2 linked regions of the Homo sapiens genome follow. The protein of the gene in region 2 purifies or fractionates together with the protein of the main gene of each other region. This does not show direct contact. Each region holds a gene or a part of one and is shown on either strand. Other genes may lie near its edges.

The links. The genes of interacting proteins can lie anywhere in the genome.
Region 1: the proteins of BTNL3 (region 2) and CYP20A1 purify together in Homo sapiens (affinity purification with mass spectrometry; 2 studies listed by BioGRID and IntAct, with this or other methods). This does not show direct contact.

Annotation. Positions count from the first base shown.
Region 1 is NC_000002.12:203,233,985-203,242,382, forward strand, and holds the start of CYP20A1 (cytochrome P450 20A1), read left to right. Parts: upstream 1-5,033; 5' UTR 5,034-5,078; coding exon 5,079-5,150; intron 5,151-5,356; exon of another isoform or gene 5,357-6,242; intron 6,243-8,398.
Region 2 is NC_000005.10:180,998,497-181,005,989, forward strand, and holds part of BTNL3 (butyrophilin-like protein 3 precursor), read left to right. Parts: intron 1-4,175; coding exon 4,176-4,289; intron 4,290-5,359; coding exon 5,360-5,380; intron 5,381-5,920; coding exon 5,921-5,947; intron 5,948-6,239; coding exon 6,240-6,266; intron 6,267-6,837; coding exon 6,838-7,376; 3' UTR 7,377-7,493.

The sequences.
Region 1 (8,398 bases), on a different chromosome or scaffold from region 2:
CACTGCAACCTCTGCCTCCTGGGTTCAGGTGATTCTCCTGCCTTAGCCTCCTAAGAACCTGGGATTACAGGCATGTGCCACCATGTCCAGCTAATTTTTGTATTTTTAGTAGAGACAGGGTTTCTGCCATGTTGGCCAGGTTGGTCTTGAACTCCTGGCCTCAAGTGATCAGTCTGCCCTGGCTTCCCAAAGTGCTGGGATTACAGGCATGAGCCACTGCGTCCGGCCTATTCCACAATCTTTTGCAATACCCATTGTTGCTACCAATAATCACTTGACCATGTAAAATTTCTTCCCTACTGACATTCCATCCCATGTCACCACTGGCAATAATTTGAATAATCTTGCTGTCATTGCATGCTACACATTATCACTATCAAGAATGAATCTCATCATGAGGTTGTCAAATATGTGTTTAAACTGGTCCTAGAATTCCAACTTGAGGAACTGTTTCTGGGAGCCACTCCTTGTGCCAACTAGAGTCAGGTCTGACAGTAAACAGTATCTCACTCCAATGGTTCAAAAGATTTTAAGGAAGAAACTATATACAAAAGTGTGGGGAGGATTAAGGGAACCAATAAAGGATGCTGAAGTCTCCAGAGACTACCAACAGGGGAAACCATTGTCACTCCTAGGTCTGAAGGGGCAAGGAGAGAAAATATTACTGTTGCTCAGAGAGGGTTGGAGGATCATAGGAGGAAGTTCTACCTCAAAAGCTATATATATAGTGGGATGTAGCTCCTGCCAGCAAATATGGCTCAGAGCTGACAGGGAGCAAAACAGGAGGCTTCTAAAGCTGCTCTCTTCTCAGCCTTAGCCTATTGATGCCTCTTGGTGGAATTAGAAGCAAGCTCATAAGAAGCCCAGGTGGCGTAGTCTGAAGGAATGAACATCAGTGGTGACAGTTGCATGGTAGACACACCTGACAGTGATAACGTAAGCATACCCTGAGAATGACCCTATATTCTAAGAAGATTGTGTGTTCACAATTCCAATCTAAGGAATCTAGTAGTAGCCAACCAGAGATTCATTTGGAGGTTGTTGTCAGCTGGGACTCCAAACTGCACTCCAAAGCTGGGACTCACCACTGCACTCCAAACCTGGGTCACAAAGTGAGACTCCGTCTCAAAAAAGAAAATTAAGGCCAGATGCGGTGGTTCACGCCTGTAATCCCAGCACTTTGGGAGGCCAAGGCAGGTGGATCACGAGGTCAGGAGTTCGAGACCAGCCTGGCCAATATGGTGAAACCCCGTCTCTACTAAAAATACAAAAATTAGCCGGACGTGGTGTCGCGTGCCTGTGGTCTGAGCTACTCAGGAGGCTGAGGCAGGAACATCACTTGAACCTGGGAGGCGGAGGTTGCAGTAGGCCGAGATTGTGCCACTGCACTCCACCCTGGACGACAGATGGAGACTCCATCTCAAAAAAAAAAAAAAAAGAAAAAAAAAGAAAAAAAAAATAAATACATTTGTAGGAGTTTTTAAAGCCACAGAGTTTAAAACTTTTGTGGTTTTTAGACTTTTTTTAGAGACTAGGTCTCACTATGTCACCCAGGACAGAGGGCAGTAGCACAACCATAGCTCACTATAACCTTGAACTCCTGGGCTCAAGTGAACTTCTGAGTCTCCCAGAGTCCTGGGATTATAGGTGTGAGCCATTGTGTGCGGCCCAAAAACTATTTTTTTTTTTTAGAGACGGAGTCTCGCTCTGTCGCCCAGCCTGGAGTGCAGTGGCACGATCTCAGCTCACTGCAAGCTCCACCTCCCGGGTTCATGCCATTCTCCTGCTTCAGCCTCCTGAGTTGCTGGGACTACAGGCGCCACCACCACGCCCAGCTAATTCTTTTTTGTATTTTTAGTAGAGACAGGGTTTCACCATGTTAGCCAGGATGGTCTCGATCTCCTGACCTCGTGATCTGCCCGCCTCGGCCTCCCAAAGTGCTGAGATTACAGGCATGAGCCACCACGCCTGGCCCCAAAAACTATTTTTTAATTCAACATGAGTACATGTTGAAGAGAAGAAGTATGACAGGTGATGAAGAAAATTACTTTCAAGGATAAAAATAATTTCATTAGAATAAAATTCTGTCGGATAAGTGCAATAAAAATAAGTTCAGAAAAAGGAACCATGGAAAATTTCCAGTTGTTCACAAAAAGTGTATGGGTTTTTTGTTTTGTTTTGTTTTGTTTTGGGTTTTGTTTTTGTCCAGGCTGGAGTGCAGTGGCGCCATTTTGGCTCACTGCAACTTCTGCCTCCCGGGTTCAAGTGATTCTCCTGCCTCAGCCTCCTGAGAAGCTGGGATTACAGGCGCATGCCACCACACCCAGCTAATTTTTGTAATTTTAGTAGAGGCGGGGTTTCCCCATGTTGACCAGGCTGATCTTGAAGTCCTGACCTCAAGTGATCTGACCGCCTCCGCCTCCCAAAGTGCTGGGAATACAGGTGGAGCCACCGTACCTGGCCAAGTTTGTGTGTTTTTAAAAAAAGTCTTATAGTTATCACATCACTATTATATTTACATTCCTTTTCATACACTTAAAAGAGAGCTGTAACAATTTCAAAACGTGAATATTTATAATATGACAGAAATTTAATCCTTTAAAGTCAAGATAAAAATTTTAGATGTCAATACAAAAAATGTGTGAAAAGATATATATGTGTGTATGTGTATATATATATTATATATATATTATTTATATATGCTTTTAGGGAGTATCTGGGCAAAACGTTTTAGGAACACAGGAAGAGGAGGTAGATGTCTAGTTTAGAGACTCACACTATAAAATATGGTGCCCTGACAATTTCTGGAATTTTTGTCTCTTTTTTACAGCCCTCAAAGTTCAGAGAGTCTCAGGATGTAGGTCAATTTAGGACTAAAAGAGAATTCTAGATATCTTGAAGGATTGGTACCTAAGATTACGGTACCTAAGATTACGGTTATATGGCTACCTTATGCAGTTAAAACTCTTATGTTTGGCCGGGCGGGGTGGTTCACGCTTGTAATCTCAGCACTTTGGGAGGCCCAGAGGGGCGAATCACGAGGTCAGGAGTTAAAGACCAGCCTGGCCAACATGGTGAAACCCATCTCTACTAAAAATACAAAAATTAGCTGGGCATGGTGGCGCGTGCCTGTAATCCCAGCTACTCGGGAGGGTGAGGCAGGAGAATTGCTTGAACCTGGGAGGCGGAGGTTGCAGTGAGCCGAGATCCCGTCACTGCACTCTAGCCTGGGCTACAGAGGGAGACTACGTCTCAAAAACAAACAAACAAAACAAACAAACAAAAAACTCTTACATTTACTGTTTTGAAAACCTATTGGGAACATCAGTTTGACAAGAAATATCTTTAAAATTCTGAACAAGAGACTTAAAAATGAACTTTGAACATACGACAGTTTAAAGCACATTTATATGCAGAGAAAGACTTAAAAATACAATTTCTGCCAAGTGAAATATTAAACAGCATGTTTCATTATATTTGCTATAGATGCCAAAAGAGTTGCCATTTTCAATGAGGTATGTTTCCTGCTTATGTAACAGTCATTTATCATAGAAGCTGTAAAATGCAATCTGGAATTTCTCTTGCCAAATTGCTGCCTGTTCTTGACATTTTATATTATTAAAGCTATAAAATCTATAAATACTTTTAGCACACTTTCACTAAAAGCAGCACTAGTAAGTAGCAGGCCTTGTCTTGTATTTCAGTAGCCACGTCAAAACTTCTGAGCCAGGCGAAATAGAAAGAGGGGTCCTAGGGTATTTTATGCCCAGGGCAACAAACGCCAAATGCTGACGTAGATAGCACTTATTCGGTTTTGCCAGGAGCTGTGCTAAGTGATTTTCATAAAATATGTAATTTAACCTACAGGCAACTCCATGTGGTATTATTTTCACTTTTTTACATAGAAGGAAATGGAAGCTTAGAAAACTGAAGCAATTTACCGAAAGTCAGAGTTAACAGAGCAAGGAAACCTGAACAGTGTGCAGCCTCCGCTCACCAGAAAGTGTCAAAGAATCACATTTACTAGTACTTCAGACAGAAATTCTGCGAAACAAGGCGTATCTACTCTTGTTTTACTCCCAGACACTTCCCTGTCCCGCTTAGATCAGTGGTGGTTTTCACTCAAATTTAAGTGTGTAACAGTGTCCCCGGGAGGGCTCTGTTCAAACAGATTGTTGTACGCGCCCCCTACCCCTGCCCACCCCGAGTGTTTGATTCAGTAGGTCTAGTTTGGGATCGAGAATCTTTTTATTTTGTTTTCCTTTTGTTTTGTTTTGTTTTGTTTTTGAGACAGGGTCTCGCCCTGTCGCCCAGGCTGGAGTGCAGTCGTGCCATCTCGGCTCACTGTAGCCTCTGCCTCCCCGGCTAAAGTGATCCTCCAGCCTCAGCCTCCGGAGCAGCTGGGGCCACAGGCAAGCGCCACCACTGTAGGCTAATTTTTTTTTTTTTTTTTTTTTTTTTTTTGTAGAGACTGGGGTCTCACTATGTTGCCCACGCTGGTCTCAAACTCCTGGGCTCAAGCGATCCTCCCGCTTCAGCCTCCCAAGGTGCTGGGATTACAGGTGGAGCCACCGCGCCCGGCATCGATAATCTGAATCTCTAACGAGCTCCCGGGCGACGTTGATGCAGCTGGTACCGGGACCACTCTTCGAAAATCATCGGTTTAGAGGTTTTAATTCTGAATCCATTGCGAAAACTGTTGGGCGGACAGAGCACTACTAACTCCTAACTTTTCTCAGAAAGCTGGGCTCTGCTTTCGCCAGCAACCCGGTCCGAAGTCGCGGGCATATTCTGTCTGAAATCGTGTGCACCGAAATCCCCGCCTTGCGGTGGAGGCTGGCGCTAGGCGGCCTCAGCCTCGGCCTGCTGCGCTCAGGAACCCGCGCCCCGGCTCCTCGGCGATCCATTGCTCTTTCCTCTGGCGCCGGCCGCAGGCCTCGGTCACGCCCCCAGCGGCCCGTTGGTTTCCGGGTCCCGCGGGGTGCCCCCGCCCACACGCTATGCCTTAAATTGGGCCAGGCTGAGGCGCTGCTGCTGGAGCGGCCGATCCGAGACGTGGCTCCCTGGGCGGCAGAACCATGTTGGACTTCGCGATCTTCGCCGTTACCTTCTTGCTGGCGTTGGTGGGAGCCGTGCTCTACCTCTATCCGGTGAGCGCCGTCTTGGCTCTCTGGGGCCCCGGGCGCCGCCCCAGTCTCTCTGTCGCCGGCATCCAGGCCAACCTGCCCGCTGCGGGCCGCAGGGGGCGGGCCTGAGAGGAGGGTTCGGGTTCGCTCCAGAGCTTCAGCGCGGGGACCGCACCCGGAGTCACGTGACGCCCCTCCCGGCAAGCTCTGAGAGCGACGTGGGCTGCGTCGCTACCCCTCAGGCGCCGGGCCAGGCGGGCGTAGAGCTGCTGAGGAAAAGCCCGCGCCCCCGCAGGCCGGTCTCACCTTGCCAGGCACCCCGCGCCACTCTCCAAGGCGGCTCTCAAGTACTTTGGGCAGCTTTTTGGCCATAACTCGCCAAACCCAAATTTCATTTCCCAGTGTGTCAGGACGAGACTCCTGGGCGCGCCACTCCTTTCTCCTTTCTTGAGGATTCTCCCAGCACTTGTGTATTCCTCTTTTCCATCTGTCCATCGATCTATCCTGACTGGAATCCAAAGTGCTCGAGGTCCAGGTCTTGCTCCTCTTAGGGGCTCCAGGCAAATGCTTCTTTGGGGAGAGCGCCGCGCTGCGGGTTCGGGTGCGAGGTTTCCTCTGCCGCTGACGCCTCTGCGAGCCTCCGGTCCTCCTCTCTCCACTTGCCTCCGTCAGCGAGAGAGGGAGGGTCTGAAAACAAAAGTGTTGATGACTGAGGACCGTCTTTAAAACCTGTTCTACACACTTTGGGAGGCTGAGGCGGGCGGATCACGAGGTCAGGATATCGAGACCATCCTGGCCAACATGGTGACACACCGTCTCTACTAAAAATACAAACATTAGCTGGCTGTGGTGGCGGGCGCCTGTAATCCCAGCTACTCAGGAGGCTGAGGCAGGAGAATCGCTTGAACCTGGGAGGCGGAGCTTGCAGTGAGCCAAGATCGCACCACTGCACTGCAGCCTGGCGACAGAGCCAGACTCTTATCTCAAAACAAACAAACAAACAAACAAAAAACACCTGTTCTACAAAGCAAGGTGGTGGTTTTACAGTGAAAGTTGAAAAGTAGCTGAACTGCTGGAATTGACCATACACCTTCTTAAATGTTCTTTTCCGAGCAGGTAAATGGATTAGACTAGAATCTTGCAACTACACAATCAGGGACTTCCTGAAATCTTATTTTCTGAGAAACTAAACAATTTTAGTGGTTCTTGAATTTTTGGTGATTTTAAAATGATACTCTTCTTTGATCAGCTCATAGAAGCACACTGTTTATTCTTAGCACTAGCTATGTGCCAGATATGGTTCCACGTGCTGGGAATCCAGCCGTGAAACAAACCGGACAGAAAATTCCTGACTCTTGGAATTTATTTCCTAGAGAAGGGGAACAGACAATAGAAACAAATAACATAGGATTGTGGGTAGAAATAAAGTTGGGGATAGGTAGATTGTTATTTTAAAGTAGGATGGCCAGGAGATACGGAGACATTTGAGTAGAAACGCGAAGAAGGTGAAGGTGCAAGCCATTCTGAGAAAGAGCATTCTGGGTCGAGGGAGCAGCAAATGCAAACCTTCAGAGGGAGACACGCCTGGTGTGTTCCTGGAAAGCAAGGGGACCAGTGTGGTTAGAGTGTAGTAAATGAGGAAGATACCAGAGGAGAGAAAGTCAGAAAGATGGGAGTGAAGGACAAATTTTAAATGACTTGTAAGGCTTTTTTAATGGACTTTTGCTGTGTGCCACTGGAGGATTTCAGCAGATGAATGCCATTTGAAATTGGATAGAATTCAAATTTAATTTTATTAGATAAATTTTAAAAGAATCATTGTGGTTGCTAAGTCATGAATTGACATGGGTCTCCAGGTAAGGATGGAAGCAAGCCAAGTAATTAGGAGGATATTATCATTTCAGCTTGGATCATGGTAGTAGTGGCACAGATAATGAGAACTAGTCAATTGTGAAGATAGTGCCAATGGGATTTCCCAGTGGATTGGATGTGAAATGTGAAAGAGAGGCATCAAGGAAAACACCAGTTATTTTTAGCCTGGTATCTGGAAGGATAGATTAATTCCAGGGAAGATCAGGGGTTTTGCTGGTGGTGGTTGTTCTTTAGTTTTGTTTTGGTGGGAGGTAGTGGGGATTTATAGAGATTAGGAGTTGGTTTTGGGTGGGCTAGGTTTGAGATGCCTGTTAGACATTCAAGTGGAGATGTTGAGGAGTAACTGAATATATGTCTTGAGTTTATGGGAAAAGTCCAGGCTGAAGATACACATTTGGGAGCTATCAATGTATAGATGGTATTTAAAGCGAGGAGAACTGGTTGCTATCTCCCAGACAATTTAGATACAGGAGAGAAGAGGTCCCAGGGACCATTCCCTGGATTCTCCAATGTTAATGGTTGAGGAGAGAAAGAAGAGCCAGCAAAGGAGACTGAGAAGGAGCAGCCACACAAATAGAAGGAAGCCAGATGTTTTAAGCAGAAGAGGATAATCAGCTAAGTCAAATGCTGCAGATATTTTAAGTTAAGGCCTAATAATTTGATAACATTGGTAATCTTTATTTTTTGTTTTGTTTCATTTAAGAGACAGAGTCTCACTCTTGCCCAGGCTACAGTGCAGTGGTACCATCATAGCTCATTGTAACCTCAAACTCCTGGCCCCAGGCGATCCTCGCACCTTAGCCTCTCAAGTTGCTGGGACTACATGCTCATGCCACCACACCTGGCTAATTTTTAAATTTTTTATTTTTTATTTTTTGATACAAAGTCTCGCTCTGTCGCCCAGGCTGGAGTGCAGTGGCATGATCTCTGCTCACTGCAGCCTCTGCCTCCCAGGTTCAAGCGATTCTTCTGCCTCAGCCTCCCAAGTAGCTGGGACTGCAGGCACACATCACCACACACAGCTAATTTTTTTATTTTTAGTAGAGACAAGATTTCACCGTGTTGGCCAGGCTGGTTTCGAACTCCTGACCTCAAGTGATCTGCCCACCTTGGCCTCCCAAAGCACTGGGATTACAGGCATGAGCCACCGTGCCCAACCTAATTTTTTAATTTTTTAATTTTTTATAGAAATGGGGTCCTGCTTTGTTGCCCAGGCTGGTCTCGAACTTCTGGGCTGAAGTGATCCTCCTGCCTCAGCCTTCCAAAGATCTGGGATTACAGGCATGAGCCACCGCAACATTTGTAATCTTAAGAAGAGCGGTTTCAGTGTAATTGGGGTGATAAACCTAAATGGTGTGGATTCAGAGATATCAAGTATAGATAGCTCTTTAGAGTTTTGC
Region 2 (7,493 bases):
AGATGGCACTCCAGGTTTGTAGAATATACATTAATTTTTACCACACTTGGAACTTTTATAAAATTTTACCAGATATAAACACATACAATGGTTTTAAGAAAATTTTCAGACATAGATATCATGCACATGAAATTCTCTAATCATAATTTAATAAAGTCAAATGACCACAGCAAAAGATAGTTTAAATTCTTATGTGTTTGAAAAATTTTTAAACATTAAAATAACTGAGAAATTGAAGAAAGCATAGTGATAGGTAGAAAATTCTTAAAACTGAATGATAATAAAATTACAATCTATCATAATGTGTAAAATAGAACTAATATAGTTTTCTGAGTCAAAATTTTATCTGGCCGGGCGCAGTGGCTCACGCCTGTAATCCCAGCACTTTGGAAGGCCAAGACAGGCGGATCACCTGAGGTCAGGAGTTCAAGACCAGCCTGGCCATAATGGTGAAACCCCGTCTCTACTAAAAATACAAAAATTAGCCGGGTGTGGTGGCGGGTGCCTGTAATCCCAGCTACCTGGGAAGCTGAGGCAGGAGAATTGCTTGAACCCGGGAGGCGGAGGTTGCGGTGAGCCGAGATCATGCCACTGCACTCCAGCCTGGGCGATAGAGCAAGACTCCATCTCAAAAATATATATATATATATCCTTTAATGCTTAAATGTTCTTATTAGCATGAAATAGCTGAATATTGATATTAGGCATCAATATATATTTCAGAAAACAGCAAAAGAAAGTGGAAGAAATCCTAAAGATATAGAAATATGGAAATATAAAGACAAATAGTGCACATTAATACATCTAAAGTTAGACGGTTCGAAGTGTTATTAAAATAGATAAACTGGCAACATCAGTTAAGAATAAAAGAGAAACAGCACAATTAAACAAGGCAGGAAATAACAAGAAGGCACAACTAAAGATTTAGTAGAGATTTGTAAGATAAACTGCTTTGAATAACTTTTTCCTTTTCTATTGAATATGATGAAGTGAAAGTTTTCATAGAAAAATGTAAAATACAGGACAGGCGCAGTGGCTCATGCCTGTAGTCCCAGCAGTGTGGAAGGCTGAGGCGGGCAGATCGCTTGAGGTCAGGAGTTTGAGACCAGCCTGCCCAACATGGCGAAACCCCATCTCTACTAAAAATACAAAAATTAGCTGGGCGTGGTGGTGTGTGTCTGTAATCCCAGCTACTCTGGAGGCTGAGGCTGGAGAATCACTTAAATCCAGGAGACAGAGATTGCAGTGAGCTGAGATCGCCCCACTGTACTCCAGCCTGGGGGACAGAGTGAGACTTTGTCTCAAAAATTTTTAAAAAAGAAGAAAAACGTAAAATACAAAATCCGAAGGAAAGATAGACTACCTGACTAATTTGTAACCATGAAAGAGGTGGACTCAGCATTTAAAAGTCTTCCCACAAGGAAGACACAAGGCCCACATTGTTTTATATACAAAGTCTACCAAATATTCAAGAAAAGAGAAAATGTATCTTTCAGAAAGTCGGCCAGAGAGCAGAAAAATAGGAAATATTAAACTCATTTTATTGAGTCAACATAATTTTGGTATCATAAGAGAAATGGGCAATTCAAAAAAGGAAAAATTTTTACCAACATTACTCATAATTGAAAATGTAAAAATCTTACCAAAAATTTTGCAAGTAGAAAAGTCCACAAAAACATATATCATGACCAAACTTATCCTGGAAAAAAATGTTAGGTCAACATGGGAACATATATTAATGTAATTATAACATAATTCGTTAAAAGAGATAAACTATAATTTTCTTAGTAGATGTAAATAAAACAGATAACTTTCTACATCTATTCATCATGATTTCAACACTTGCAAATCTAGAAATAGAAGAAAATTTTTTTTATCAATCTAGAAATAGGAGAGACTCTGCTTAATCTGATAAAAAGATATCTAAAGATACTTGCAGCAAACATCATACAAAATAATAAGCCACCTAATTTTTTAAATACATACCGAAAACATTATACATAATGTGTCATTTAAAATCATAACATAGGCCGGGCGCGGTGGCTCACGCCTGTAATCCCAGCACTTTGGGAGGCCGAGGCAGGTGGATCATGAGGTCAGGAGATCGAGACCATCCTGGCTAACAAGGTGAAACCCCGTCTCTACTAAAAATACAAAAAATTAGCCGGGCGCGGTGGCGGGCGCCTGTAGTCCCAGCTACTCGGGAGGCTGAGGCAGGAGAATGGCGTGAACCCGGGAAGCGGAGCTTGCAGTGAGCCGAGATTGCGCCACTGCAGTCCGCAGTCCGGCCTGGGCGACAGAGCGAGACTCCGTCTCAAAAAAAAATAAAATAAAATAAAAAAATAAAATAAAATAAAATAAAATCATAACATAAGGAGATTGCATTAAACACTTCTGTTCCACATTATATTAGAGTACTGTTACTATTAGCAGCCACTTCAATAAGGGAAGAAAATGTAAAAGTTATAACTTTTAGAAAGAAAAAAATTAAATGGCCATTGTTCACAGTTTATATGATGATATAAACGGAAAATTTAGAAAAATTTACAGACAAATTCTTTCAACTCATAAAGGAATCCATCGTGTTCATGAAAAATGAGAGGAATAAACAAAATCTAATAAAATGTTTACAAAATCTTATTGAAGGGTATTATAAAACTGTATTAAAAGACACTAATGAAAACTAAAATAAGAGAACAAACATAACACCTTTCAGATAAGAAGATGCATGTTTTTAAAGATACCAGTTCTCCTAGAATTGCTGTACAGATTCAATACAATTCCATAGAAAAATCTCAGCACATTTTTTGGTTTGTTTGTTTTTTGAGATGAGCTGTCACTCTGTCACCCATGCTGGAGTATAGTGGTGCAATCATGGCTCATTGCAACCTCAATTTCCCATGCTCAAGCAATCCTCCCACCTCAGCCTCCCAAGTAGCTGGGACCACAGGTGTGCACCACCATGCCTGGCTAATTTTTTTTAATTTTAAATATTTTTATAGATGGGGGGGGGTCTCACTTTGTTGCCTAGACTGGTCTCGAACTCCTGTCCTTAAGAAATCCTCCCGGCCAGGCGCGGTGGCTCATGCCTGTAATCCCAGCACTTTGGGAGGCCGAGACGGGAGGATCACGAGGTTAGGAGATCGAGACCATCCTGGCTAACATGGTGAAACCCCATCTCTACTAAAAATACAAAAAATTAGCTAGGCGTGGTGGCGGGCGCCTGTAGTCCCAGCCACTCAGGAGGCTGAGGAAGGAGAATGGCGTGAACCCGGGAGGCAGAGGTTGCAGTGAGCCGAGATCGCGCCACTGCACTCCTCCCTGGGCAACAGAGCGAGACTCTGTCTCAACAAAACAAAACAAAACAAAACAAAACAAAGAAATCTAAAGGAGAAAAGAATAAACATTACCTTTAAAAAAAAAAAGAAATCCTCCCACTTTGGCCTCCCAAACTGCTGGGTTTATAGGCATGAGCCACTGCACCTGGCCCAGAGTTTTCTTAAAGCCTAACAAGTCAATTCCAAAGTTTATGTGGCAAAACAAATAGCCAAGAATTGCTAAGATACAGTGGAATAAGAGCAAGCTAAGAAGCTTAGTCTTATCTCAGAGACATATCCCAAAGCTTTGAAGATTAAGCCAATTAAAATTATTGGCACAGAGATAACCCTATGGATCAATGAGAGAGAACAAAGAGCCCAGAAACAAATCCAAGCTTGAACATGAGGTACACAGAGGTGACCTTGCATGTGTGGCAGTGTGTAAAGCAAGGTCCACTCAACAAACATTGCCAGCACAGTCAACACCTGCTTAGAAGAAGATGACATTGAACTTCTGCCTCATTAGACATAGACACACACACACACACACACACGTGTGTGTGTATATATATATATATATATATATATATGAAATCCAGATGGATCAAGACTTATAAAGAAATGCAAAGCTTTAACGCGCACACACACACACACGTGAATATATATATATATATATATATATATATATATATGAAATCCGGATGGATCAAGATGTTTATAGAAATGCAAAGCTTTAAATCTGTGGAAGAAATGAGAGAAAAATGTTTTCATCTTGGGGTACTGGGGGATTCCTTAAATGGGCGTAAAATTGTCTTACCTGCTTAGCTATCACTAAGGGTCTGTGGGACTGTTTTTCAGAGACGTTTTTCCAGCCCTCACCTTGGCGCCTGGCTTCTATTTTACTCGGGTTACTCTGTGGTGCCCTGTGTGGTGTTGTCATGGGGATGATAATTGTTTTCTTCAAATCCAAAGGTAAGTGAGAGAGAGAAGCATGGGCCCATACCTTCTTCATGGTTCCAGTGGAGCTGATATCAGGCTGCCCTCACACACCTCTGGGCTCTGCTCTTCCAGCCCTAGGCCTACAGGGGCCACCAGCTGAGGCACAGGGAACCCAGTCTTCAGCCTCCTCTGTGCTGGCCTGAAATGGCTCCTTCAGAAAATGCCAGCCTCTGCCAATCCCTTTCTACTTTACATGGAGCACAGGATAAGCAGATAATTGATTTTCAGTACATAAAGAGTTCACATAAATTTCTACCAACAGGCTGAGTGCCGTGGCTCGTGTCTGTAATCCCAGCACTTTGGGAGGCCGATGTGGGAGGATCACTTGAGCCCAGGAGTGTAAGACCATCCTGGGCAACATGGCGAGAACTCCTCTCTACAAAAAATTTTTAAAAAATAAAATAAAATAATTAGCTGGGTGTGGTGGTGCGTGACTGTGGTCCCAGCTACTTAGGAGGTTGAGATGGGAGGATGGCTTGAGCACAGGAGGTCAAGGCTTTAGTGAGCCATGTTCGCACCACTGCACATCAGCCTGGGCAACAGAGTGAGACCCTGACTCAATAAATAAATATATAAAAATAAATAAATTTCTACTAACGACAACAAGAGACAATAAGAAAATTTCAGGGTGGTTGCAAAGACTTCATAGAAGAGGAAATAAAACTGACTGACTGAGATAAAATGATAATCTCAGTAAGAGTCTTCACCCTAGAACAAATTTCCTCCTCCTTGGGAGTGACACTTCCCCTTGGGGGTGAGGCCACCCCCGCCTCCCCTCCCAGCCGCCTTCTCCCATCTCCATCCCCACCTCCACAGCATCCCAGCTGTTGTCCCTCTCCTTAGCATGCACCTTCCTGATCTCTTGCTCCACCCCAGAGAGCCACACTCCGTGCAGGGGCTGGGGAGACGAGCACATATAAGTGTCCTAGGAGAGGCCCTGCCCTTCACACCTGCAGCTCGTCCCACCTGTGCAAGGAGCCAGCGTCGTGTTTGTACCTTGCACACTCCTGTGTCCACCACTGAATATACTGTTTCTGTTTCAGGGAAAATCCAGGCGGAACTGGGTATGTGTCATGTCCTGAGCCTCCCACACATGGTTCTCCCGGGTCCCTCCCTGATCCACAGTTTGAGCCTCTGGACGACCCTGGCTGCAGGCTGGACAGGAAGCACCGGCAGGTGGAGGGGAGCAGCTGCTCACTCTCTCCATCCACTGCTCATGAGTTACCCCTCGGACATCTGGAGGGCTTAGGATAGGCCCCGGGGCCTGGAAGTCCCCACAAATTGTCTGTGCCTGTTGCCCGTTGGTTTGCTGTGTGTGTGGTGGGGGGAGGTGTTGATCATGAGCTCTGAGGGTGTCTGGGCCACAGTGAGGAACCTGAGAAAAATTTGTGGGTGATCCTCGACCTCCCCTGGCCTGATGCTTTGAGACTTTATCCAGTTCTGTATCAACCACTAAATAGTCTGCTTTTTGTTTTGTGGGAACTCCAGGATAAACTGGGTGAGAGTGTTACCACTCGCAGGGATTCCCTCCCACGCCCTCCCTGGGCCCCCGCTCTGTGACGTCAGCCTCTTACATGTTTTTTGTTTTTGTTTTTGTTTTTCAGACTGGAGAAGAAAGCACGGACAGGCAGGTAAAAGAAAATATTCCTCTTCACACATTTATGACTCCTTTCCAAGTCTCTCGTTTATGGATTTTTATATCCTGAGGCCCGTGGGTCCCTGCAGAGCCAAGCTTGTGATGGGAACTCTGAAATTGCAGATTCTGGGGGAGGTGCATTTTGTAGAGAAGCCCCATAGCCTTCTTCAGATCTCTGGAGGGTCCACAACACTCAAAAAGGGTCCCAATCCTTGGTCTTTCCCTTCTCCCTGCGCCCTGTTTCCCACGTGAGCACGGAACTGCCTGCTCTCTCTGCTTGCTTTCAGAATTGAGAGACGCCCGGAAACACGCAGGTACCAACGCCTGAGAGGGTAACAGTGGGCATGGAGTAGGAAGATGACCAGTGACAGATATGGAGCCCATCCAGCTTGTAGACAGCAAATCTGTGATGCCCGAATCCACCCCAGGGTGCAGCTGCCTCTAAATACACTTCTTGGCCCAGGACTTGGAGGGAAAAGCGTAGGGACTGGGTCAGCTAGGAGGGGTCACAGGCAAGACGCCAGGGAACTGAGGGCATTAGTAGCTGGCTTCTAGGGGTCTGTGCAAAGGGGAACTAAGTGAAGTTAGCAGGAACTGGTGGGTGGAAGGAAGCTGAATCCTGGAGTCACTCAAGGTCTCACAAAGTCAAATAGAGGGCTTACGTGGGAGGGCAGTGGTAGGGCTGGGTGAACATCTCATGGTTGAGCATCTCCAAGCATCAGTGAGGCACGGGGGCTGCCCTGGAGAAGGTACATGGCTGGTGGGATAGTGGGACTGGCCGGATCCTACCCGGAGCCAGTCTGCAGTGGGAGGGTCGACCTCTTGCTCCAGCCCAGATTTCGTCTTCAGTAACTCATGCTTCCTCTCTCCCCCACCGCACCCCAGTGGAGGTGACTCTGGATCCAGAGACGGCTCACCCGAAGCTCTGCGTTTCTGATCTGAAAACTGTAACCCATAGAAAAGCTCCCCAGGAGGTGCCTCACTCTGAGAAGAGATTTACAAGGAAGAGTGTGGTGGCTTCTCAGGGTTTCCAAGCAGGGAAACATTACTGGGAGGTGGACGTGGGACAAAATGTAGGGTGGTATGTGGGAGTGTGTCGGGATGACGTAGACAGGGGGAAGAACAATGTGACTTTGTCTCCCAACAATGGGTATTGGGTCCTCAGACTGACAACAGAACATTTGTATTTCACATTCAATCCCCATTTTATCAGCCTCCCCCCCAGCACCCCTCCTACACGAGTAGGGGTCTTCCTGGACTATGAGGGTGGGACCATCTCCTTCTTCAATACAAATGACCAGTCCCTTATTTATACCCTGCTGACATGTCAGTTTGAAGGCTTGTTGAGACCCTATATCCAGCATGCGATGTATGACGAGGAAAAGGGGACTCCCATATTCATATGTCCAGTGTCCTGGGGATGAGACAGAGAAGACCCTGCTTAAAGGGCCCCACACCACAGACCCAGACACAGCCAAGGGAGAGTGCTCCCGACAGGTGGCCCCAGCTTCCTCTCCGGAGCCTGCGCACAGAGAGTCACG